3 separate regions of the Homo sapiens genome follow, and all the other regions are linked to region 1. The links come from fine-mapping of genetic effects on gene expression. A gene starts in region 1. Each other region holds a variant in brackets. All regions are shown on one strand. Distances are between the middles of the regions.

Region 1 (8,187 bases):
CGGGTGCCTGTAGTCCCAGCTACTTGGGAGGCTGAGGCAGGAGAATGGCGTGAACCCAGGAGGCGGAGCTTGCAGTGAGCCAAGATTGCTTCACTGCACTCCAGCCTGGGTGACAGAGTGAGAGCGAGACTCCGTCTCAAAAAAAAAAAAAAAAAAAGTGATGAATTTACACAAGAAACAAACAACATAGGGGCAAAATCAGATTATAACACCTTCAAAGAACTGAAACAATTCATGTACATTAAATATTTTAAGGTATATTACTATGATTTTAGGGTCTTCAAGCTTCTCTTTGGAGGTATGTGAAGTAAGAAGAAATGAAAATGTAATCATTATAGTGTATACACGCCCTTTCTGTCTTTCTGAAACAATAATCCTGCGATAAACCATTGGTAAAAGATGCATTCTCATCTTTATGAGAACATCTCCCTTTTCTAAGACACTAGCTTGCTGGTGACTAGATCTTTGAAGACATACCTTGGTGCCCAGAAAGATACCTGATTAGCCAGACCAAGGGAACCAAGAAGATTACACCTCTATTTTACTCTTCTTAGTCTCTTTGCAGTTTGTACTTTCAGTAGACTACCTGTACTTAATTCGCTTCTTAAAATATGATGAGGACTGCAGAAAAAATATTATGTCCATATTACAGGTAAAGCAACAAAGGTCCCCAAAAGATGGAGTGACTTGGCCAGGATCACAAAGCTAGTAAAAAATTCATTTACTCTTTTTGTCATTAACATATTAAGTCCTATCAAGTCGGGATGCTAAAACTATGGGAGAATTAATCAGAGTAAATATCTTTATTTTTATTTTTTGAGACAGAGTCTCGCTCTATAGTGCAGGCTTGAGTGCAGTGGCACTATCTTGGCTCACTGCAACCTCTACCTCCTGGTTCAAGCGATTCTCCCACCTCAGCCTTTCGAGTAGCTGGGATTACAGGCACCGCCACCATGCCTGGCTAATTTTTTGTATTTTTTTAGTAGAGACGGTGTTTCACTATGTTGTCTAGGCTGGTCTTGAACTCCTGAGCTCAGGCAATCCACCCGCCTTGACCTCCCAAAGTGTTAGGATTACAGACGTGAGCCACTGTACCCAACTTACTTTTTGTATTTTTAGTAGAGACGGGGTTTCACCTGTTGGCCAGGCTGGTCTCAAACTCCTAACCTCAAGTGATCCACCTGCTTCAGCTTGCCCAAGTGCTGGGATTACAGACGTGAGCCACCACTCCTAGCCTGTTATTTTTTTATTTTATTTTATTTAAGAGACAGGGTCTTGCTCTGTAGCCCAGGCCGAAATGCAGCCGTGCAACCTTAGCTCACTGTAACCTCGAACTCCCACCTCAGCCTCTCAAGTAGTTAGGACTGCAGGCATGCACTATGTTGCCCAGGTGGGTCTCAAACTCCTGGCCTCAAGTGATTCTCCTACCTCTGCCTCCCAAAGCACTGGGATTACAGGCATGAGACACTACACCAGGCCCCAGAGTAAACATCTGTAAATGGAAGAGTCTGTAATGAAAGAGGCTCTACAAAATCAGTTTAATGCCGTGTTTTCTCTATTATTATTATTTATTTATTTAATTTTTTCTTCTTTTTTTTTTTTTTTTGAGATGGAGTCTCGCTGTCGCCCAGACTGGAGTGCAGTGGCCCGATCTCGGCTTACTGCAGGCTCCGCCCCCCGGGGTTCATGCCATTCTCCTGCCTCAGCCTCCCAAATAGCTGGGACTACAGGCGCCCGCCACCTCACCTGGCTAATTTTTTGTATTTTTAGTAGAGATGGGGTTTCATTGTGTTAACCAGGATGGTCTCGATCTCTTGACCTCGTGATCTGCCCGCCTTGGCCTCCCAAAGTGCTGGGATTACAGGCGTGAGCCACCGCGCCCAGCCTATTTATTTAATTTTTTGAGACACAGAGTCTCGCTCTGTCGCCCAGGTTGGAGTGCAGTGGCGCAATCTCGGTCACCGCAAGCTCCGCCTCCCGGGTTCACACCATTCTCCTGCCTCAGCCTCCCGAGTAGCTGGGACCACAGGCGCCCACCACCACGCCCGGCTAATTTTTTGTATTTTTAGTACAGACAGGGTTTCACTGTGTTAGCCAGGATGGTCATGATCTCCTGACCTCGTGATCCGCCCGCCTCCACCTCCCAAAGTGCTGGGATTACAAGTGTGAGCCACCGCACCCGGCCTCTATTAATATTTTTTAGTTATACTTCATGTGTCTACATTTTCATTCCATCATGAGCTCCTTGAGGACAGTGCTTAGGTGATATTTATCTGTCTTCTGACACTGAGTTTCTGCCATCCAAGCAGAAAAGGCTCAATAAAAATGTATTGAATCGAATAAATATTTGTAATTCACATGACAGACAAATGCATAATGCCGAAGCAACTGTTTATTTCCCCTTATCAATAAATGTCAGCATTGTTTTCTCCTTTCCTTGCTTTCGATTTCCTGTAAAAACCTGATGGTGACTGGCCAAGGAAATATCCTTTTTAAATTCAAATTTGGCAAACACACTGAAGACATGCGATAATCTTAATATATTCCTCGTAGGAATGTGAGAAGTGTTCAGAGCAAAGGGCTAACATATTTAGAGGTCAAAAAATTGATTCCAGGCTGGACGCGGTGGCTCACGCCTGCAATCCCAGCCCTTTGGGAGGCCAAGGCAGGTGGATCACCTGAGGTCAGGAGTTCGAGACCAGCGTGGCCAACATGGCGAAACCCCATCTCTACTAAAAATACAAAAATTAGCCAGGCATGGTGGCACGCGCCTGTAGTGCCAGATACTCGGGAGGCTGAGGCAGGAGAATCGCTTGAACCTGGGAGGCAGAGGTTGCAGTGAGCCGAGATCGCGCTACTGCACTCCAGTGTGGGTGACAGAGCGAGAGTGTGGGTGACAGAGCGAGACTCTGTCTCAAAAAAAAAAAAAAAAATTGATTCTAGTCAATAGGTATTTATTTTGGGGAGTAAAGAGATGGGAAGAATTAGAGAAAGGAAGAGGAAAAACAAAAATAAATAGCATGCAGATAATGAGAAAATAGACTCATTTTTACAGCTGTGAGCTCAGACTAAAAGATAAACAATGCTATTACTTTGGAATATAATTCTAATAACACAAAAAAGACTCATAGACCACAATATGTATTTATTTTGTGGCAAAGGTGTCATTTTTAGAAAGAAACAAATGTGTTCAATTTTGCTTTCCCTGTTTTTAATGAATTAAGAAAGGTCTTCTCTTACCTTCTTTTGACTGTCATCATTCCTCTCATCCAGGAATATTTACAGGTTTGCAAGAAGACACCATCTTTAAGTAGTTTTTAGGCACTTTTACAATACTGACTAAATTGTATAAAATAGTATTATAAATTAATATTTAAATTATAATTTTATGACGTGAAAATCAACAACGAATGTCAATTTCACTTCGTTTTGACTGTCATCTGTGGCCTCTGGAGTCCCTCACTTAAATCATTGGTCCTTGGTTTTATTTTTTAAGCCTATTAAAAAGGAGGATGGGGCCGGGCACGGTGGCTCACACCTGTAATCCCAGCACTTTGGGAGGCTGAGGTGGACAGATCATTTGAGGTCAGGAGTTGAAGACCGGCCTGGCCAACACCGTGAAACCCCATCTCTACTAAATATACAAAAAAAAAAAAAAAAAAGTACAACAACAACAAAAAATTAGACGGGTGTGGAGGCAGAGGCAGGAGAATTTCTTGAACCTGGGAGGCAGAGGTTGCAGTGAGCTGAGATGGTGCCACTGCTCTCCAGTCTGGGAGACAGAGCGAGACCCTGTCTCAAAACAAACAAGCAAACAAGCAAGCAAGCAAACAAACAAAAAACAAGTTGGGCATGGTGGCTCACCCCTGTAATCCCAGCACTTTGGGAAGCCGAGGCAGGCGGATCACCTGAGGTCAGGAGTTTGAGACCAGCTTGGCCAACATGGCGAAACCCCATGTCTACTAAAAATACAAAAATTAGCCGGGCATCGTGGCGCCTGCCTATAATTCCAGCTACTCGGGAGGCTGAGGCAGGATAAACTCTTGAACCCGGGATGTGGAGGTTGCAGGTTGCACGTGACATAGCCGAGATCGCGCCATTGCACTCCAGCCTGGGCAACAAAAGCGAAACTCCATCTCAAAAAAAAAAAAAAAAAACAAAAAAAACAAAAAAACCCAGAAAAACAAAAAAACAACAAACAAAAAGGGAGGATGGTAGATAACTGTCCAGATACTTTCCAGCTTTGCCGCTATATGAACTATTCCTTTTGTTTAGTTTTCAGCATGGGAGCTTCTGGCACTTTTACGTACTTTCCAGCTTCTGGGGACCGGCTGCCTAGAATAACAGGCATTTGCCCCAGAGGCCGTGGAGTGGCCTCACTTTGGGGTCGTGGGCAGATCGCTGGCTCCCACGCCTGGACTTCGGGATCGCAGGCAGGATCCCTTCCAGCCCAAGCACTCCGCCCAGGCGCGCCAGGCAGAGCCCCACCCCATCCCGCCGTTCCCTTCAGCCCCGGGGCGCGGATCTTGCATCTGAAACTGAGCAGAGCAGGGCGCCGGGCAGGGCCGGCGGGCCACGTGATAAGCCCGGAAACAGCTCCGCCCCCTCGCTTCCTGAGCCGCCACATCCCGGCAGCCCTCCTACCTGCGCACGTGGTGCCGCCGCTGCTGCCTCCCGCTCGCCCTGAACCCAGTGCCTGCAGCCATGGCTCCCGGCCAGCTCGGTGAGGCCCTAGCGGAGCGGCGCGGTCTGCGTCCTCGCCTGCGGCCCCCCACGCTCCCGCCTTGGCGGCGGCCGGCGGGACCCGGCACTGCAGGGGCGGCGCTGCGGGATTGAAAGCCAGCGTCCCCGCTCCCCGGCCGGGCCGCAGCCTGCGTGGGGCCCGCCTTAGAGCAGCTCGCGGGTGTAAGACCTGGGGAGGCCCGGACCAGGCCTGCGAACGCAGGGTCCAGGTGCTGGCCTTGCGATTCGAGAATCTCCTCCCCCAGACCCTCCCAAGGCCTTGCAGAACACAGTGCAATGTGCTGCGAATCATGAGAAAAAATGTCTTCTCTTTCAGCCTTATTTAGTGTCTCTGACAAAACCGGCCTTGTGGAATTTGCAAGAAACCTGACCGCTCTTGGTTTGAATCTGGTCGCTTCCGGAGGGACTGCAAAAGCTCTCAGGGATGCTGGTCTGGCAGTCAGGTAAGGCATAGCTAGTTCCATCAGAAAGGAGTGTGATCACATTAACCAGGAAGTATTGTATTCCAGGCACCAGCAGCAAAACGCCTTATTTACTCCTCCCAGTAGCGCTGTGAGGTTGGTGTAATACTTCCCCACTTTATGGGGAAAAAAAGTGAGGCTCAGAGAGATTTAGCAACTTTTAAGACCCTGGACGGCTGGGCTAGGTGGCTCACGCATGTAATCCCAGCACTTTGGGAGGCCGAGGTGGGCTGATCACTTACGGTCAAGAGTTCGAGACCAGCCTGGCCAACATGGTGAAACCCGTCTCTACTAAAAATACAAAAATTAGCCGGTATGGTGGCACACGCCTGTAATCCCAGCTACTGGGAAGGCTGAGGCAGGAGAATCGCTTGAACCTAGGAGGCGGAGGTTGTGGTGAGCCGAGATGGCACTACTGCACTCCATCCTGGGTGACAGAGAAAGACCCTGGACAACACACTGGACAGATTTAGCATCTTCTGCACAAGTTTAAACAGTTGAGTAAGGGAAAAGTAGGATTGGAACCCGTGCTGTTCCTGATTTTAGGACACTAGTCTTAGCCCCTTCCTTAAACAGATTAACTTAGGTGGGCCACTTGTTATGCAAGGAAAACTTCAGTTACTTTGACTGGTGATTTAATAAAACTCGACATCATGAAGATTCCAATTTACCTGCCTTCCCTTAGAATCTCTGGTAACCATATGAAGGTGCAAATCATTCATTCCCACGTTCACAAGCCCTTCATTAGCTGACTAGGCCATGGAAAGAAGGGACTTAGAAATGATTAACCAGGATGCCATTGCTGATGTCAAGGAGTGGCATTCTGGGAGGAGAGGGAGGAAGTCTACTGAAAGGTAGAAAAATGAAAAAAACTATAGGATAGCTATTTAATAAACGGCAGTGAGAGTTGGGAGGAACGAGATGACCACCCCTGAAACATATTTTAGAATGAAAGAGATGAAGGATATCTGTCTGCTTTTTGTTGCCATGTGGAAAATTTGCTTCTTGGTTTCTAGATCCATGTAGAGGTAGGTTATTACCTTTTCTTTGTGCAGTTCCCAGCTATGTGAGCAGTACACAGCTTCCCTAAGTTTAACAAGTTCAGATGGTAAGAATGCCTTACTTTATTAACAAATACATAACTGTATATTTTCGGATGTCTTTTTGCGTCTTGTCTCTGTGGTTTTCATGGGAAACCTGTGAGAATCGTGGCAGGCAAGTTGGCTCTTTGCTCATCAGCAACCGAATGAGAATTCAAAGTCCAGACCTGCGTGCTTTCCATTGGGCCAAGTTGGGTCCTCCTATGGTAATGGAACCTTCGTAAAGCAAAATCCTCATCTGTAGTCTCTTTTTTTTCCCCACCAAACTTTGTATTATGGAAACATTTCAGACACAATCAAAAGTAGAAAAGTATAATGATCCCTTGGGTCCTATATCTGTCACCCACTTTAGGTACTTATCAACTGATTAGTCTTGTTTCTGTACCTATACCCACTCCTCACTTATCTTCATTATGGTCATATCTTCTTTAAAAACTGGAAATGTAAATGTGTTTCTCTTCTATGAAAGGATAAGAAGTTCACCATGAGTGATTTATTTAGACCCCAGCACAGTAAAGTTCACTGAATGAAATGTAAACAACTTGGAGCAATTGTTTTTTCTTCAACAAAGGCCACATTCAGTTGCAGTGGTATTTTATTCAGTTGCAGTGGTATTTTACATATATAAACTCTTATAGTCCTTATAACAACTTTTTAGTTTAGGTAGTGTTATCCTCATTTTATAGGTGAGGAAATTAAGCACAACGTAGTTAAGTAACTCGCTCGAGATTACACAGCTAGTTAAGAGGCCAAGATTTTTTTTTTTTTTCTCTGAGATAGAGTTTCACTCTTGTTGCTCAGGCTGGAGTGCAATGGCACTGTCTCAGCTCACTGCAACCTCTGCCTCCCAGGTTCAAACGATTCTCCTGCCTCAGCCTCCCAAGTAGCTAGGATTACAGGCGCCCGCCACCACGCCTGGCTAATTTTTTTGTATTTTTGGTAGAGACAGAGTTTCACCATGTTGGCCAGGCTGATCTCGAACTCCTGACCTCAAGTGATCGCCCGCCTTGGCCTGCTGGGATTACAGGTGTGAGCCACCGCACCCGAGGCCAAGATTTTGTAGGGGTGGAAAGGTGTGATCCTTTGCTCTCCATCGTAAACGTCACGGCCAATATTTTTATAAGAGAAGACAGGTTATAATAAGAGAAAAGCATAACAAATTTATTTAACAAAGTTTTACATGACATGAGAGCCTTCAGAATGAAGACCCAAAGACAGAGGAAAAACCATCCATTTTTATGTTTAGGTTCAACAAAGAATGGACAGAAAGGTGGAAGTATGATTGGACAGCAAGGATATGGTGTATGCTAGTAGACTGAGGTGGAGAAAGCCAGGAAAGCCTGTCTGTCCAGATTCTTCTTGGCTTCTCTAAAATTCTTTCTCCACCCCCTAAGGATCTCCTGACCTACTAATGGGCAAGGAGATGAGAGGATTTCTTTACGTCCAGCTCCTAGACAGAAAGCCAGTGGAAAGTTAGAATCATAAGTTTAAATCTTATGACTGGCTTTGGGGAAAAAGAGTTTTAGTTTCTGTAAACTGCCCTGGGGAAGAGAAATTCTCATTTCTGTGACTTCAGGGAAGAATGAAGGGTGAGAGGCAAGAGGGCAGGAGAAAGCTATATATATATATTTTTTTAGAGGGTTTTACTCTGTCACCCAGGCTGGAGTGCAGTGGCACAATCATGGCTAATTGCAGCCTCGATCTCCCAGGCTGAGGCAATCCTTCCACCTCAGCCTCCTGAGTATCTGGGACTACAGCTGCACACCAGCATGCCCAACTAATTTTTGTATTTTTCATAGAGATGGTTTCACCATGTTGTCTGTCTGGTCTTGAACTCTAGGGCTTAAGCAATTTTGCCTGCCTTGGCCTCCCAAAGTGCTGGG
Region 2 (8,187 bases), 36 kb before region 1:
TTCACAGAGTCCTCAAGTAGATAAGCCTTTATTTTTATGGCCATAATTTGATTTCTTGATAGGGAAAGAAGGAGAAAATTCTTCTGAAACTAATGTTATATTGGAACAAAATTTATTATCGATCCATATTCATTCTACTACCAGATATAATGAAAGTTTGGATAAGGTATTATTCTTTCTGGGGATTTTATGTATAGCAAAGTCAGTGTGAAGCCGACTATGTCATTGCTTGAGAGTCTGAACCTAATCGCCACTTAATTGATTCATGCTTGTAGCTGCACTGCTGCATAGCATCCCAGAGTGCTCAGATGCTACCTGTCAGGTGCATCCCATCACAATGCAAAGCAGCAGGTCTTGTGCCTGCCTTGATTTAAATGGAATGCTGGAGGAATGAAGCAGCCCAGGCAATCTGGAAGGCTGGTAGGGAAGAGGATCAGCTTCTGTTTCACCTCCCCATTGATAAAACTGACAGATCCCAGGCAGGCCTGAGGAGGTAAATTATGACCATAACATTAGCTAACTGTGGGGTAATATACACTGCTGGCCTATGGGGTCAGATCAAAGCTCCAGTCCTCCCTGTCCTTGACACCTAAGGAGAAGCAACATTAATTTCTGAGGATCTTTATTGGGCCACAGTGTTGAGGCAGAGCGTGGAACTTTTAATGTCATGGTAAGAAAAGGAGGCAGAAGCTTATTCTCTAACTATGCTCTCCAGTTGGATTAGGGATTTTAGAGACTCTGTCATTTTGGACTTGTCTTATTAAAATGATGTCTCCGCCAGCTGCCGCTCTAGCAATTAAGACAGGCCTGCTTTCCACCTAGTAATGAACTCCTCCAACGGCCTTTTCTCACCAACCACCCACACCCCACTTCCTATTGCCACAGGAAGGCCTGGCCTGGGGTAGAGTGTCTAGGTTTTGGGCGTAGGGAACCATCCCACCTATATTCTATTTTTCTTTGGATTTCTCTCTCTCTCTTTTTTTTTTTTTTTTTTTTTTGCCACTAGAGTGAGATCTGGAGGAACTTCATTTAGGCCTCTGACAAAAGACACATAGGAATGTTTTCAGCCCTATGTAGTCCAGCACAATTCGCCAGGTCTAGGAATTCCAAAAAGGATTTTGGCACCAAACCCAAACAGTAATAAACAGTGTGCACAGGCCAGGCCTCACCATCAAGGCATGGATTGTGTCTCTTATGGGGAATCTAGTAGACATGGTTGTGACTGTAAGTGGTTTTTTAGGGATTTGGTGATCTTGAGTCCCGGCCTAATATCAACTCAGAAATGACTGGCATATACCCTTGGAACAGTGTAGAACTGGGGGAAAGATAATAGGCAAAATGAAGATGGAGACATCTTGTATGAATCACCATCTCATGGCGTGGAACTATCAACTTGGCTTTTCCAAATACATGATGTTCCTGAAACCTCTGAATTACATCTCTGAATATTTGGATATTTAAGCTATTTTGATGCCTTGCTTACATTTAAGCTACCTTCCAAAGCAAATTCTATCCATCCTAATTGCTTTCAAACCAATCTTGCCTTAAAAATATTCCTACAAATCAACTGGTGTTGAATATTGATATAAGTAAATACTCTCCTTTAGACTAGAAAACCAGCATGTTTCATCACCAAATTTTTAAAAAGCAATTAATCTTCTCTTACCCATATTGAATAAGAATTCACTTTAGAATTTCCTTCTCATGAGGCAGAGCTTGACATTTAACAATTCTCATGTTTCATTTTCAGAAGTAAATGAGTATGCTGCAGTTAACCTGAGAGTTGATTCATAGTTAGGAATACAGGGAGTAACGTGGGGGAAATACCTCCTTTCTTTAGCTCAGGGGAACACACTGAGTGCCTGTAAAGTTACCCACAGTGCTATCCATATCGACTAGATTGTAGTCAAGTAAGGGCATACGATCAAGGTGCCATCAGGACCTAAGCAATATTCATGATCTCTGACAATATGGATCATGCACTGAAATTCTACAATTGTCCTTAGAGAAAATCAAAAGTTTATAGCACCACTTTTACCATAGAACATTTTTTCTTTTGGAATGGGGACAAAAAAAAAAAAGAAAAAAAAAGATTCATGGAAAGGATTTGGTCTCTGAATGCAGGTGAACCTGAATTTGAATCCTAGTGTTTGTAAGCCCTGACTATGTAATTTTGCTCATGGCCTGGTGCCTAGCAGGTGCTCAACAAGTCTTTGTTTTCTCTGAAACAGATCTGTATTTGTATCCTATTTTTTTTTTTTTTTTGAGGTGGAGTCTCACTCTGTTGCCCAGGCTGGAGTGCAATGGCATGGTCTTGGCTCATTGCAACCTCTGCCTGCCTGGTTCAAGGGATTCTCCTGCCTCAGCCCCCCAAGTAGCTGGGATTACAGGTGTCCGCCACCACTCCTGGCTTTTTTTTAATTTTATACTTAGTAGAAACAGGGTTTTACCATGTTGGCCGGGCTGGTCTCGAACTCGTGACCTCAGGTGATCTGCCTGCCTCGGTCTCCCAAAGTGCTGGGATTACAGGTGTGAGCCACCGCACCTGGCCTATATTCAGCTCCTATTGTGGCTGTAACAAATTACCAAAAGCTTCAAGGCTTAAAACAACACAGATTTATTACATTTCTGAAGGTCAGAAGTCCTTCAGCGTCTTGAGCAAGGCTGTGTTTCCTCTGGGCACTCCAGAGGAGAATGTTTCCTTGCCACGGCATGGCCCCACTACTATAGCATTTTGGACGCTATAAAAAGAAAAATCTCCTAGGCCAAATTGCCTCTACATTTCATTGTAGACACAATTAACTAAATTTATTCTTCTACAGCAGTGATTTTCAAACTTTTTGGTCTCGAAACCCCTTTATACTCTTAAAAAATATTACAGACTCCGAACGGCTGTAGTTTACGCAGGCTCTATCTGTCAATATTTATCATATTTGAAATTAAGATTGGTATTACAAGAATACACGAAGAGCACAGAAGCACACATTCCATTAAGCATCGGAACAATGATATCATTACACGTTATGGAGCCACTGTAAACCCCATTCATGAAAGAATGGGAGTGAAAAAAGCAAATAACATTAGTACTACTATGAAAAGATCTTTTACCTTGCAGACCTCCTGAAATGGTTGTAGGAGTCTCTGGGCCACATTTTAAGAACTGTTGTTCAGCTGGTGTGAAAGAAGGCGCAACAGCTAAAGAAATGCCAATTCTAAATCTCTCAAAGCAATCATCATGCTGACTATGCCCAGAACAGCACAGCAGCCAGTGTGGCCTTCTGCTGATAGGAAAGACCGAGCAGTCTGACTCTATCCTTTCCCTAAAGACTCTGGCTGTGGGCAGCCTCCATTCCCTGTGGTGTTGGAATCAACCAATGAGGAGGGGAGAAAACGCTTAGAAATAGTTTGAACAATAATAGAGTCAGCAGTTATAGTTGGTTCTAACATATTTTTAAAACTGCATTGTTATGATTCTGATGATCATACACAGTGCGGGAACTACTAGCTATTTCACCTATATATGAGTAAAACATTTGGGGAAATTTCCCTCTGGTTCAGCTGGTTATGCTGTTCACGGAGGTCCTTGACATTTGCCCAGCGGAGTCATCACCTGAAACCACGGGCAGCTGAACCCTGGGAACTTGCCTCGGTGTTTATAAATACCTCAGTTGCATCAGGACCCTACAGGTGAAAGATCTTGATACCACACAGGTATAATTACAATCTGCAAACCTACTCAAGGGGAGTTGCAGGTGAAGATAAGGAAGTCAGCCTCATTCCATTACCTAATCAGATTCTCAGCCAAAGACAAACAGCAACATATGGGACTTTAAGGTGAGCAGGGAGCCGACAGCAGCGCTACTCAAAATGTGGTCCGTGATCTGCATGGCTCTCAGAATTGTTTGTTATTGGTTCATGGCAAGTAAAGCACAGAAAATGAGAGTAAGGATTTAAAACATTTGGAAAAGTTTGACAATAGTTGTGTATCTGTTGAAACTAATCATTTATAAATGTGTTTCTATTTTGCATGACTTTTTCATTTTCCATTGTTTTGCTTCTTCAGTTTTATCAAAGTATTGGTCTGTAACAAATTGTGTGTGTTTTGTTGGGGACTGATCCATCAGTAATTTGTCAAGCACTGATCTAGAGGTTAAGGCCCTTTGGTCTGTTGGTTGAAATGTAATAACTAATTTTTTTAGACAAAAGAACTGATTTTACCTGGATATGATCTTTCTTAAAGTTTATTTCAAGTTTGATTAATCTCAATGAAACTCTGAAGTCTAAATTTAATGTCAAGATTTAGATTTGGGCCGGGAGTGGTGGCTCACGTCTGTAATCCCAGTACTT[A/T]GGGAGGCTGAGGCGGGTGGATCATTTGAGGTCAGGAGTTCGAGACCAGCCTGGCCAACATGGTGAAATCCCATCATCCATCAAAAATACAAAAAATTAACCGAGCATGGTGACACACACCTGTAATCCCAGCTACTCAGGAGGCTGAGGCGGGAGAATTGCTCCAACCCAGGAGATGGCAGTTCCAGTGAGCCAAGATCGCACCAATGCATTCCAGCTTGGGAGACAGAGACTCTGTCCCCTGTCAAAATATGTATACACACACACACACACACACACACACACACGCACACACATATACATATATATACATATTTAACTGGGCATGGTGGTATACACTCGTAGTCCCAGCTACTCAGAAGGTTGAAGTGGGAGGATTGCTTAATACTGGAAGTTTGAAGCCGCAGTAAGCTATGATTGAGCTACTGCACTCCAGCATGGGTGACAGAGCAAGACCCTGTCTCAAAAAAAAAAAAAAAGCACATTTAGGTTTGACAATTTCAGGGCTAAATAACAAATTAATTAGCAGTTATTATGTTCATCAGACATAAGGCTATTTAATATCATTTCTTTTGCCTGATTGAAGGTTTCCAGGCTTTCAGGAAGCAGTACTATTTAATCAAATACCAATGGCATACTTGTGTCATGCAATGTTACGTTCCATAGGCAATAATAAAAATGCTATCAAGGAAAAAGTCAAGAGAAGTGGCTGTGGTCTAGATAAATGAAATACAATGTAATTAAGAATATGGATCAGAAAACTTAATTTTAAAAAAGCAATTTTCTTCTTTAGGTTTGTCCTATCTTTACAGTTGTATGTAAATTTTTAACATCCAGTACAGATCTCATAGTGTTATTATCGAAGCTCACAGTTGAAAGTGCTTGTTTACAAGTGTTTATCTTGCCAAACAGATAAACATTAAGGTGCCCTGTAATGGGTTTTTGTTTTGAGTTCATCCACTGATTTGTAAAATTCTGAGTGAGTAGATCCCCTGTGTAAAAGGCTTTTAAATTTGCAAGCACAGGAGTTCAATCAATTCCAATTGTTGGAGTGGGACCAACATCCTTAGGTGAAAGAAAACATTACTTGATAACTCCTTTTATCTTTTTTAAGCTGAGAAAAGCGGCAGTCTCATTCAAGTGCCAACTTCCCAATGAGAAACACACACTTTCTACTTTATCTCCAACATAAGGCAGAAAGAATAAGAGAATTCAGCAAGCAAGAGAATATTACTTTGTATGTATCTGAGTATCTGATAGCCATCATGTCAGAAACAGATCGCATATTGAAGGTTTTGCACTTCATGGATACAGCAGTTATTAAATGGACTTATTTCTCTAATCATAAAAACCAAGTCTTTATATTTCCTCCCTCATATTATAAGTATTAAAAATTTCTGTTATCTTTTCCCTGATTATAAAAGTAATACATGTTCATTACAGAAATATGTAATAAGAAAGCAAAATCATTCATAATCATACCACATTTAAATAAAGCAATCCTAATATTTGTATATACTATTTCCCATTTTTTCTATGGGTATTCATATATGGTTATATTTCTTTTCTTTTTTTATTTTTTTTTGAGACGGAGTCTCACTGTGTTGCCCAGGCTGGAGTGCAGTGGTGCAATCTCAGCTCACTGCAAGCTCCGCCTCCTGGGTTCACACCATTCTCCTGCCTCAGCCTCCCGAGTAGCTGGGACTACAGGTGCCTGCCACCACGCCTGGCTAATTTTTTGTATTTTTAGTAGAGATGGGTTTTCACCATGTTAGCCAGGATGGTCTCGATCTCCTGACCTCGTGATCCACCTGCCTTGGCCTCCCAAAGTGCTGGGATTACAGGCATAAGCCACCGCACCCAGCTCATAAATGTTTATATTTCTACATAGCTGAGATAATAATGTATGCATTAGTGTGAATCTTATTTTTTTGTTTGTTTGCTTTTGAGACAGGGTCTTGCTCTGTCACCCAGGCTGGAGTTCACTGGCATGATCATGGCTCACTGCAGCCTCCATCTCCTGGACTCAGGTGATCCTCCCACCTCACCCTCTGGAATAGCTGGGACTTCAGGCATGTACCACTACGCCCAGCTAATTTTTTTTATTTTTTGTAGAGACGGAGCTTCACCATGTTGCCCAGGCTGGTCTTGAACATCTGGACTCAAGTTATCTGTCACCTTGGCCTCCCAAAGTGCTGGGATTACAGGCATGAGCCACAGCACCTTGCTTATTCTTTTGTTTGCTATTAAAATATAAGCATTTTCTAGTCAATAAAAATTAACCAAGAACATAATTTGCAATGGCTGCATAATATTCTGTTATATTGAAGTTATAATAGATGTGAGGAGTTTCCTATTGCTGAATATTTACTTTTTCTAGAGGTTAAGAAGAGCTTTTAGAGTCAGAAAGACTTGACTTGTTGACTCTAAAGTCCTGGCTGGTGGTGGGTGCAGTGACTCACGCCCATAATCTCAACACTTTGGGAGGCCGAGGTGGGTGGATCACTTGAGGTCAGGAGTTTCCGACAAGCCTGGTCAACAGGGTGAAACCCTGTCTCTGCTAAAAATATAAAAATTCTGGGTGTGGTAGTGCATGCCTGTAGTCCTAGCTACTTGGGAGGCTGAGGTATGATAATTGCTTGAACCCAGGAGGTGGAGGTTGCAGTGAGGCAAGATTGCACCACTGCACTCCAGCCTGGGAGACAGAACGAGTCTTTGCCTTAAAAAAAAAAAAAAAAAAAAAAAATATATATATATATATATATATATACACACACACATACATAAAGTCCTGGGCCAGGCGCGGTGGTGGCTCATGCCTGTAATCCCAGTACTTTGGGAGGCCGAGGCAGGTGGGTCACTTGAGGTCGGGGTTTGAAACCAGCCTGACCAACATGGTGAAATCCTGTCTCTACTAAAAAAAAAAAAAAAAAAAAAAAAATTAGCTGGGCATGGTGGCATGTGTCTGTAATCCCAGTTACTCTGGAGGCTGAGGCAGGAGAATCGCTTGAACCTAGGAGGCAGAGGTTGCAGTGAGCAGAGATTGTGCCACTGCACTCCAGTCTGGGCCACAGAGCAAGACCCTGTCTCAAACAAACAAACAAAAGAAAAAAAGTCCTGGCTGGCTCTGCCACTTATTAGCTATGTGACTTTAGTCAAGTTACGTACTCTCTCTAAAGTGCAATTTTCTCATCTGTAAAAATTGGGATTATTATACAAGCTACTTCATAGGGTGGTTGTGATAGTAAATAAAGATTATGCATATAAAACAGTGCATCACAGTGTCTGACTTTTCTCAGTAAATGTTAATTATTTTGATACTGTGATAAATATCTTAGCTCATACAGCTTTGGTCTAGTTTTATGAAATTATTTAATTTAGAAAATGCCAAGAAGACTTGAAATAAACATAGAGATCTATATTTTAAAGATTATTTTTCAGCTTTCAATTTGACCAAGAGAATAACGACTGTTAGATTCCTGTAAGCAAACTATTAGGTTGCTGCAAAAGTAATTGCGGTTTTTGACCTTGAAAGTTATGGCACAAACCGCAATTACTTTTGCACCAACATAATAAGACAGCATGGAAAAGTTTGGATTTAAATGATGGAAGAACAAAAGCATTTTATGAATGTCTACTTCACTTGGAATTATTCATATTCCTCAGATGTGTTAAAAATTGAAAGATGAGGCCAGCGTGGGAGGCTAACGCCTGTAATCCCAGCACTTTGGGAGGCCGAAATGTGCGAATCACGAGGTCAGGAGATCGAGACCATCCTGGCTAACCCGGTGAAACGCCGTCTCTACTAAAAATACAAAAAAATTAGCCAGGCGTGTTGGC
Region 3 (8,187 bases), 24 kb after region 1:
AAATATTTGGCAAGGTCTTTAAAAACTATCTTAACCCATGAAGGACATGAAATTACACATTTTTGTTTTTTGGGTTTTTTTTTTTTTTTTTTGAGACGGAGTCTCGCTCTTGTTGGCCAGGCTGGAGTGCAGTGGCGCGGTTTCGGCTCACTACAACCTCCACCTTCCAGGTTCAAGCGATTCTCCTGCCTCAGCCTCCCTAGTAGCTGGGATTACATGCGCCCGCCACCACACCCAGCTAATTTTTGTGTTTTTAGTAGAGACGGGGGTTTCACCATGTTGACCAGGCTGATCTCGAACTCCTGACCTTGTGATCCACCCACCTCGGCCTCCCAAAGTGCTGGGGTCATGGGGGTGAGCCATTGTACCCGGCTCATTTTTGTTTTTAATTAGTGCTGGCCCACCATTTCTTTCTGTGTGCTGAACTTCTTATGTTTATTCACAAGAGATACTAGCTCCTAAAAAAATCTGCCAGTGTTGAGAAACTAGGTAATGGAAAACTCTGAAGTTGCAGTCTCCTTTTAACTACAGTTCTGCTTTAGGCAGAGTCTGTTGAGTTTGCCATCAAAGAAGAAAGAAAAAACACATTATTTCTTCTCTTCTTCCACCCACAGCTGTTGCTTTAGCTTGTAATATAATTTCTTACATCGATAGGGTTTATAACTTTAATTTTGTACTGTCTCTGTGATTACCTCAATTGTTTAATCTTAGTTCTGTATTTACATGAATTCCTGACTGATCACTAGTCTTGTCATAGTTTCTCCCATCCCTAAATCTCTTATTGTGGATTTATTTCTAGACTGGCTGGTTCTGGTCCTCCAGTCGTGTGTGTGTGTGTGTGTGTGTGTGTGTGTGTGTGTGTGTGTGTTCATGTACATGTGCATTTTTTTTAAAGATGGGCTCAGGCTCAGTTGCTTTGTTCTTTATCATCAAGATTTTATGTTTGTGTGTATCTGTTTGGCTCTTAATTATACTTAAAACATTTGTTTAGTCATGTTATTTTTTTGAGAAGTGTGCATACATCTGACCTTACTGATCCTGCTTAGTAATGTGCATGTATATTTTTACATTTAGTTCTAAATGGAGCCCCTGGATTTATAAACTTGTGCGATGCTTTGAACGCCTGGCAGCTGGTGAAGGAACTCAAGGAGGCTTTAGGTATTCCAGCCGCTGCCTCTTTCAAACATGTCAGCCCAGCAGGTAAAGCTCTGTGCTCTGGAAAGCTCCAGAATTGTTCGAAAGGCATTTCTTCTTAAATTTTTTTGAATATTAACAAGTTCTAATGTGAATATAGACATGCTATGAAATCTGAAAGTCATCTGTTGATAACAGTATCAATGTAATAATATAAAATCTGATACACACACACACACAGAATTGTGTAATATTGTCAGGAAAATGAGGCAGGAATTTGTTTGTGGGGTGGAACCATAAAAGTTTAGAAAATAAAAGTGAAATGTCCTAATGCAATAGACTAAGTCTTGTGCCACATCTTTGAAAATGTAATGGAGTAAACATAAAGAAGTTCTTCTTTGGACTCTTTATCTGAAACTTCTTATAGTCGTTGTATGAGATACTTTGCTTCTGTGTTTAAATCATGAACTCCGCAATTGAGTTGTCTGTACACCACATCTTGCTGACAGTCCTCCAGCACATGATTTGTTCTCAGGTGTTTATTGGGTGTTAAAGTGATGTGAGTGGGGAAGAAATAAATGATGTGTGATATCAAAGTGATATCAAGCAGAACAGAGAGAAAGAGTGAGTCAGTAATGAAGTAAACGAGCTTCACCTACACGCTGGGTACTGTCAGGCTTCAGTGGCTCTGTGGTTTTGGAGGGCAGAGAGGAGATTTCCCTCACACTGCTCCCACAACCATATTTTTAGTGTATAATTATCTGGCTAAATAGATTTCTGTTTAATTTAGCACAGGCACTAGAAAATGTGCTGCGTAGACTGGGTGTTAAGAAAACTGTCTTGATTTAGGAGTTGACAGGTAGTAACTTTAGCTTTCTTTGTTTATGATTTTACTATTTTCTAACCAGGTGCTGCTGTTGGAATTCCACTCAGTGAAGATGAGGCCAAAGTCTGCATGGTTTATGATCTCTATAAAACCCTCACACCCATCTCAGCGGCATATGCAAGAGCAAGAGGTCAGACTCATAGGGCTTTTTGATTTGGGGGAGAAAGAAAAAGCAATATTTTATCCTAAATAGAATAAAGAGGATAGAATAAAGAAAAAATATATAGATATTCTGTATAATATATAGATGAAATTAAGGACTTCTATCTCTATGTAAATATACAGTTATTCTATATAATATAGTTTGATTAAAGTAAAATACCCTTTGTTTCATTATAGGATTTCCTATTTAATTTGTTTTATTAATATTTGAGATTGATTCTGTGAGTACCTCAAAATACATTTCTTTATAAAAGTGTATGTTAGTATTTTAGGCCGGGCGCAATGTCTCACGCCTGTAGTACCAGGACTTTGGGAGGCTGAGGCGGGCAGATCACGAGGTCAGGAGATCGAGACCATCCTGGCTAACACGGTGAAACCCCGTCTCTACTAAAAATACAAAAAATTAGCTGGGCGTGGTGGGGGGTACCTGTAGTCCCAGGTACTCAGGAGGCTGAGGCAGGAGAATGGTGTGAACCCGGCAGGTGGAACTTGCAGTGAGCCAAGATAGCGCCAGTGCACTCCAGCCTGGGTGACAGAGCGATACTCCGTCTCAAAAAAAAAAAAGTATTTGTTAGTATTTTAGTGTAATAAATGGAAACACAATTGGAATTTGGTCAATGTAATTTTGCTAATTTAGGCTATTGAATGCATTTGTTATTGTTTAATATGTGACCAAAATTGAAATTACAAAAAGCTATTCTTTTTTTTTTTTTTTTTTTTTTGAGACAGCTTCTTGCTCTGTTGCCCAGGCTGGAGTGCAGTGGCGCCATCTCAGCTCACTGCAACCTCCACCTCCTGGGTTCAAGCGATTCTCCTGCCTCAGCGTCCTGAGTAGCTGGGATTACAGGTGCGTGCCACCACACCTGGCTAATTTTTTTGTATTTTTAGTAGAGACATGGTTTCACCATGTTGGCCAGGCTGGTCTTGAGCTCCTGACCTCAAGTGATTCACCTGCCTCAGCCTCCCAGAGGGCTGGGATTACAGGCGTGATTTATGGCTCTTCTAACTTTACTACATTTGGTTAGAGTCATGTTTTATCAGAGACATTTACTTGTTGAATTTAATAACCCATGAATATCCCTTTAGTATTTCTGAAAGTTCTTGAGAAACTATTACCATAGTTTATCATCTACAGCAGTGGTCAGCAACTTCAGCTGAATCCAGCCTGCCACCCTGTTTTTGTGAATATAGTATATATAAATTGGTCCTTCACAGAAAAAGTTTTCTGAGTGTCACTCTAGAGGGTAAAATTAAAGAATACTTTCTTACTGGTTACTTCAGTTAAATGACTTATTGATCTGTTAAAATCTTATGTAAACAGTAAGATTAGCTTTAGAG[T/A]AATGAATTTTATATGACAGTGGAGAATTTTATTACTTTTTCTGTATCAGGATACTTTGTGATAAATACCTCATTTTAATTTTATTTACAGGGGCTGATAGGATGTCTTCATTTGGTGATTTTGTTGCATTGTCCGATGTTTGTGATGTACCAACTGCAAAAATTATTTCCAGAGAAGTTAGTGGACATTCATGTATCTTAATCTGTGTGTTGAATAAAGCTTTATTTGTTCATAATGTTAATTGAAACCATAACCTATAATATTTATATTTATAATATCTTTTAATTAGCTAAGTTTATCATTTAATGTTCATATTTTAAATAGAACATTAATCTTAAATTGTTAATTTTGAAATGTAGTGAATTATTGTTTCAGATGGATATTTGGCTGTTATGATGTTTTTTACTTATATATTTATTTTAAATTCTTTGTTGTCTTCATGCCAAAGTTACTGTTTCTGAAGAGCAGAAGTTGTAATTTTAGGTGGTGATGCGATATAATCCATCTTACTGCATAGTGGGTAAAAAACAGAAACTACATTAATAAACTTACCCCATCAGTTGAATACCAAACAGGTATTCCAGACAGGTGGGGGTACTGTTGGTAGTAGGAAGACAGGAAGAAAAGAGAAAAAGATTAAATAGCTCAGAAAGGGGAAAAAAATAAGCAGAGGTGAAGGCTGAAGGAGCATGTGGCTTGGCACTATTTTGTTGCTTTAGGATTCTTTCCATGGCCACTGCCATCCCTGGGTTACAGGTTACAGGAGGGCTGTGACATTTGTATCTTTCGTCATGTCAAATCTCTGATTTAATCTGGTCTTGCTGTTAAGGAAAACGCCTTGCCGGAAGAGGTCATTTAACCATGTACTAGGAGAGTCAGGACTAGAATGTGCTCTTGCTCATTCAAAACACTCCCTGAAGAAATATTTCCTCCTGAGGTACATGTGTTAAGAGCAAATCAGTCATATTTTCTTAGTTTAAACTGAAACGAACAAAAACTTGGAGAGGACAGAAAGTTAGGATCTGCTATACAGAAAGCTGTATTCTAATAGATTTCTCTTTTCAAGTATAGCGTTAGCATTGTTTGTTGGAGGCAGAAACCAGAATATGCTGCCACATTATTTAAGACTGATAATTGCTGCTAGATTTTTTTAAGAGGTGTTCTCTGATTTTTAAAAATAGAAATTAAAATTTAATATTTTTGCAGGTATCTGATGGTATAATTGCCCCAGGATATGAAGAAGAAGCCTTGACAATACTTTCCAAAAAGAAAAATGGAAACTATTGTGTCCTTCAGGTGAGTGCAATTCATGTTTGAAGCGGTAATTTGCTCTTTTATTCTGTGTCTCTTTCTCCCTTGTTTACTCTTTCCTTTATACTCATACCCTTCTAGTTTATCCTTATTATAGTTTATTTTCCCCAATCCTGCATTTAAAAAAATACTATTAACTTGGGGTTTTGAGATGAGAGTAGCTTTCTTACCCTCAATTTTAACTTTTTGCTGGTTGTGATGGCTCATGCCTATAATTTCAGCCACTTGAGAGGCTGATGTGGGAGGATGGCTTGAGGCCAAGAATTGGAGGCTGTATTGTGGTACTATGATGCCTGTGAATAACGACTGCACTCCAGCCTTGGCAGTGTAGTAAGACCATGTCTCTAAAATACTAATAATAGTAACAATATTTAATGGAAAGTCTCTCCATCCTTCTGTTACCTTTTGAAAAGATAACTATTTTAAATTTCTTGCTTATCTTTCCTGAAATAGTCTATGTATTCAGCAAATATTTGCATGTGCATTTCTTTTTCTATTTTCCTATTGACACAAGTGCACCCTGCTTCACCTTCTTGGAAGTTTGTCCTGTATCTGTGTATTTTAACTTACCTAGACAGTCACCAATCTTTAGCTACTACAAATACCCCTGCAGTGAATAACCTAGAAAAGTCCTGAGAGTGAAATTAAGGCTTAATAACAAGCTCTATGTATATTGGTAATCTTAATTGATACTGCCCCTTTTAGATGTTGTAGGCAAATTCATTGTCCTAACTGAAATATATAAGGATGCCTGTTTCCCAACACTTTTGTCAGCATTGTGGTTTTATACTTTTAAAAAGTCTCTGCAGTTAGAAAATGGCATCTCAATGTAGTTTTAACATTGTGTGTGGTATGAGCATCTTTTCATGTTTGAATGTTTTTATTCCTTTCTATGAACTGTCTTTCCATATTCTTTGATGATTTTTCTACTAAGTTGTTGTTGGCTTTTTTTTTTTTTTTAACTGATTTTTATGAGCTCTTCTGTATTGGGAAAAGTAGCTCATGGTCTAAGATTATGCATTGATAAAGCAAAGAGTTATTTCAATTTAAAGTAAAAATTCCTAATGCTACTTTTCATAGTATTGATATCAGAACTCTGTGGAATCCTAATTCCTTACAAGGAAAGTTATTAAGTATATTCTTTTGATTGTAAGATACCAATAATTTTATAGTTCACCATAGATTCCATGTCAGCTATTTAAGGAAAGAAGAGAATACCACATTAAAGTTAATACTTATTTTTTTTTAGCCACTTGACAGTCTGTTGCCCAGGCTAGAGTGCAGTGGTGTGATCTTGGCTCACTGCAACCTCTGCCTCCTGAGTTCAAGCGATTTTCCTGCCTCACCCTCCCAAGTACCTGGGACTACAGGCATGTACTACCAGGCCTGGCTGAGTTTTGTATTTTTAGTAGAGACAGGGTTTCACCATGTTGGCCAGGCTGGTCTCAAACTCCTGACCTCAAGGGATCTGCCCGCCTCGGCCTCCCAAAGTGTTGGGATTACAGGCGTGAGCCACCGCGCCTGGCCCCCAGTTTCTTAATCAAGTTTTTTTTTTGTTGTTGTTGTTAAGAGTGTTATGTACTTAACAACCATTAGCATTTTCTTGTAGCATCATGGAAAATATTTTCCAAAACCTGAGTCATTTTCTTGATCTCTTTAACACCTGATAGTTGGAGAGTGTCAAAGGAATATCAGGACTTCATTGGTATTTTACTTATTTGAGAATTTGGCTTAGTTTGCACATTGGACGCATGATTATAAGCATGAGACAACTTATCCCTCTACCTGACTAATGATAAGTTTCTCCTAGCATCAGTTAATAGGAGAGCATATCAATTTTAGAAATTTTATAGTGCATAATACAAAGGAACATTTTAGAATTCAAGAAAATGTAGATTAAACAGAACTAATATTTACGGGGTCTTGCTTATAAATTATATGTCAGGGCTTTCTAAATCAAAGATCATCCAAAGCATAAAGAAGAAATAGTGTCAAGTTTAAAAAAATATCCAGGGAGAGAGTAGTGTTACACGTATTGTTCCACACACCTTAATGTTCTTTCGGCTCAAAATTTGGGAGAGGAAGATGGCAGTAAATGATACAAATTCCTTCCAAATAGCAAAGACACAGATTACAAATCCTGTTTTCTCACTTTTAGCTTTCAATTCCTGGGTTAGCTGGGTATTTTGTAACAGATTTTTAGAAAGGAAAATTAGAATTTAATTTTTGTGCCATTGCTTATTTAATTAGCACATCTGTTTTATCTGCTGACCTTCCAAAAGAACCATATAGGTAGTAACTTAACCAAAAATACACTCACTGGAATCATTGTTTTTTAACATGTTGTATATAGGTTGTAAAATCTATAAAATACTATTGGGTAGTAAAATCTATAAAAGACTTTGGAGAAAAATATTAGCGCCTGGCTGTTGTATCATACCAGAATGTTGAATTGTATCATACCAGAATGATTTAACACATCATTTGTTGTGTGAGAAAAATTAGAAAATTAGAAAACTGTAAAAAATTAGAAACATGCATATAACTTTACTTACAATGAAATCTTTTGTATATAAATTAAATGAAAAATTTGAGGGAAGTGGAGAGATTAACTTTAACTTTTAAAATTTGTATTTTAGATGGACCAATCTTACAAACCAGATGAAAATGAAGTTCGAACTCTCTTTGGTCTTCATTTAAGCCAGAAGAGAAATAATGGTGTCGTCGACAAGTCATTATTTAGCAATGTTGTTACCAAAAATAAAGATGTAAGTTGGGAAGTATCTGAACTGACTGCTAGTAACTTCCATTGGTCTGTTTTCAATACTTAATGAGCTTTACATTTATTAAGGTCTGGATTTGGAACTGGTCTGTATGCACACGGCTAGCTAGCTTATCTTTGAGTTGTCACATAAGCTTTGGAGTTTAAGAAATGAATCAAAGGCCATGTTAGAAGCTTCTGTGCATATGTACACACTAGAGATAAGTAGCTTTAATTGTGTATAAATGGGATCATGTCTTCCATAATCTGACTCCTGTAACTTGGCTTTTTTCCATGTGCTAGGCTACAAATGTGTTTTTATATCAATACATATAGATGCTGGGTGCAGTAGCTGACATTTGTAATCCCAACACTTTGGTAGGCCAAGGGGCAGCTCTCTTGAGGTCAGGAGTTTAAGACCAGCCTGACCATGTAGTGAAACCTTGTCTCTAGAAAAAGTACAAAAATTAGCCTGGCGTGGTAGCTGCGCCTGTAGGTCCAGCTACTCGAGAGGCTGAGGTGAGAGGATTGCATGAGTCTGGGAGATCAAGGCTGCAGTGAGCCGTGTTTGTGCCACTGCACTCCTCTCTGGGT

The links.
Region 2: its variant is fine-mapped to the expression of ATIC in whole blood (TOPMed, PIP 0.96).
Region 3: its variant is fine-mapped to the expression of ATIC in amygdala (GTEx, PIP 0.91).

What each region holds. Positions count from the first base shown.
Region 1 is chr2:215,307,439-215,315,625 of GRCh38, forward strand. ATIC (5-aminoimidazole-4-carboxamide ribonucleotide formyltransferase/IMP cyclohydrolase) reads left to right here and starts at 4,621. Exons shown (of 16, transcript NM_004044.7): 1 at 4,621-4,723; 2 at 5,060-5,186. The coding sequence starts at 4,705. LOC124907975 (a long non-coding RNA gene) reads right to left here and starts at 4,534. Exons shown (of 2, transcript XR_007088075.1): 1 at 3,241-4,534. RefSeq lists an enhancer at 4,325-4,975 and silencers at 4,506-4,585, 4,596-4,965.
Region 2 is chr2:215,271,307-215,279,493 of GRCh38, forward strand. LINC02862 (long intergenic non-protein coding RNA 2862) reads left to right here and starts at 3,684. Exons shown (of 3, transcript NR_174956.1): 1 at 3,684-3,834; 2 at 6,302-6,377; 3 at 6,463-6,641. RefSeq lists an enhancer at 59-607. The variant A/T (reference allele first, on the strand shown) is at 4,348.
Region 3 is chr2:215,331,308-215,339,494 of GRCh38, forward strand. It overlaps ATIC (5-aminoimidazole-4-carboxamide ribonucleotide formyltransferase/IMP cyclohydrolase), which reads left to right. Exons shown (of 16, transcript NM_004044.7): 8 at 1,075-1,200; 9 at 2,043-2,150; 10 at 3,612-3,697; 11 at 4,728-4,817; 12 at 7,472-7,600. Among named protein-coding and RNA genes, the nearest start is that of ATIC, 23 kb to the left of the region's middle. The variant T/A (reference allele first, on the strand shown) is at 3,521.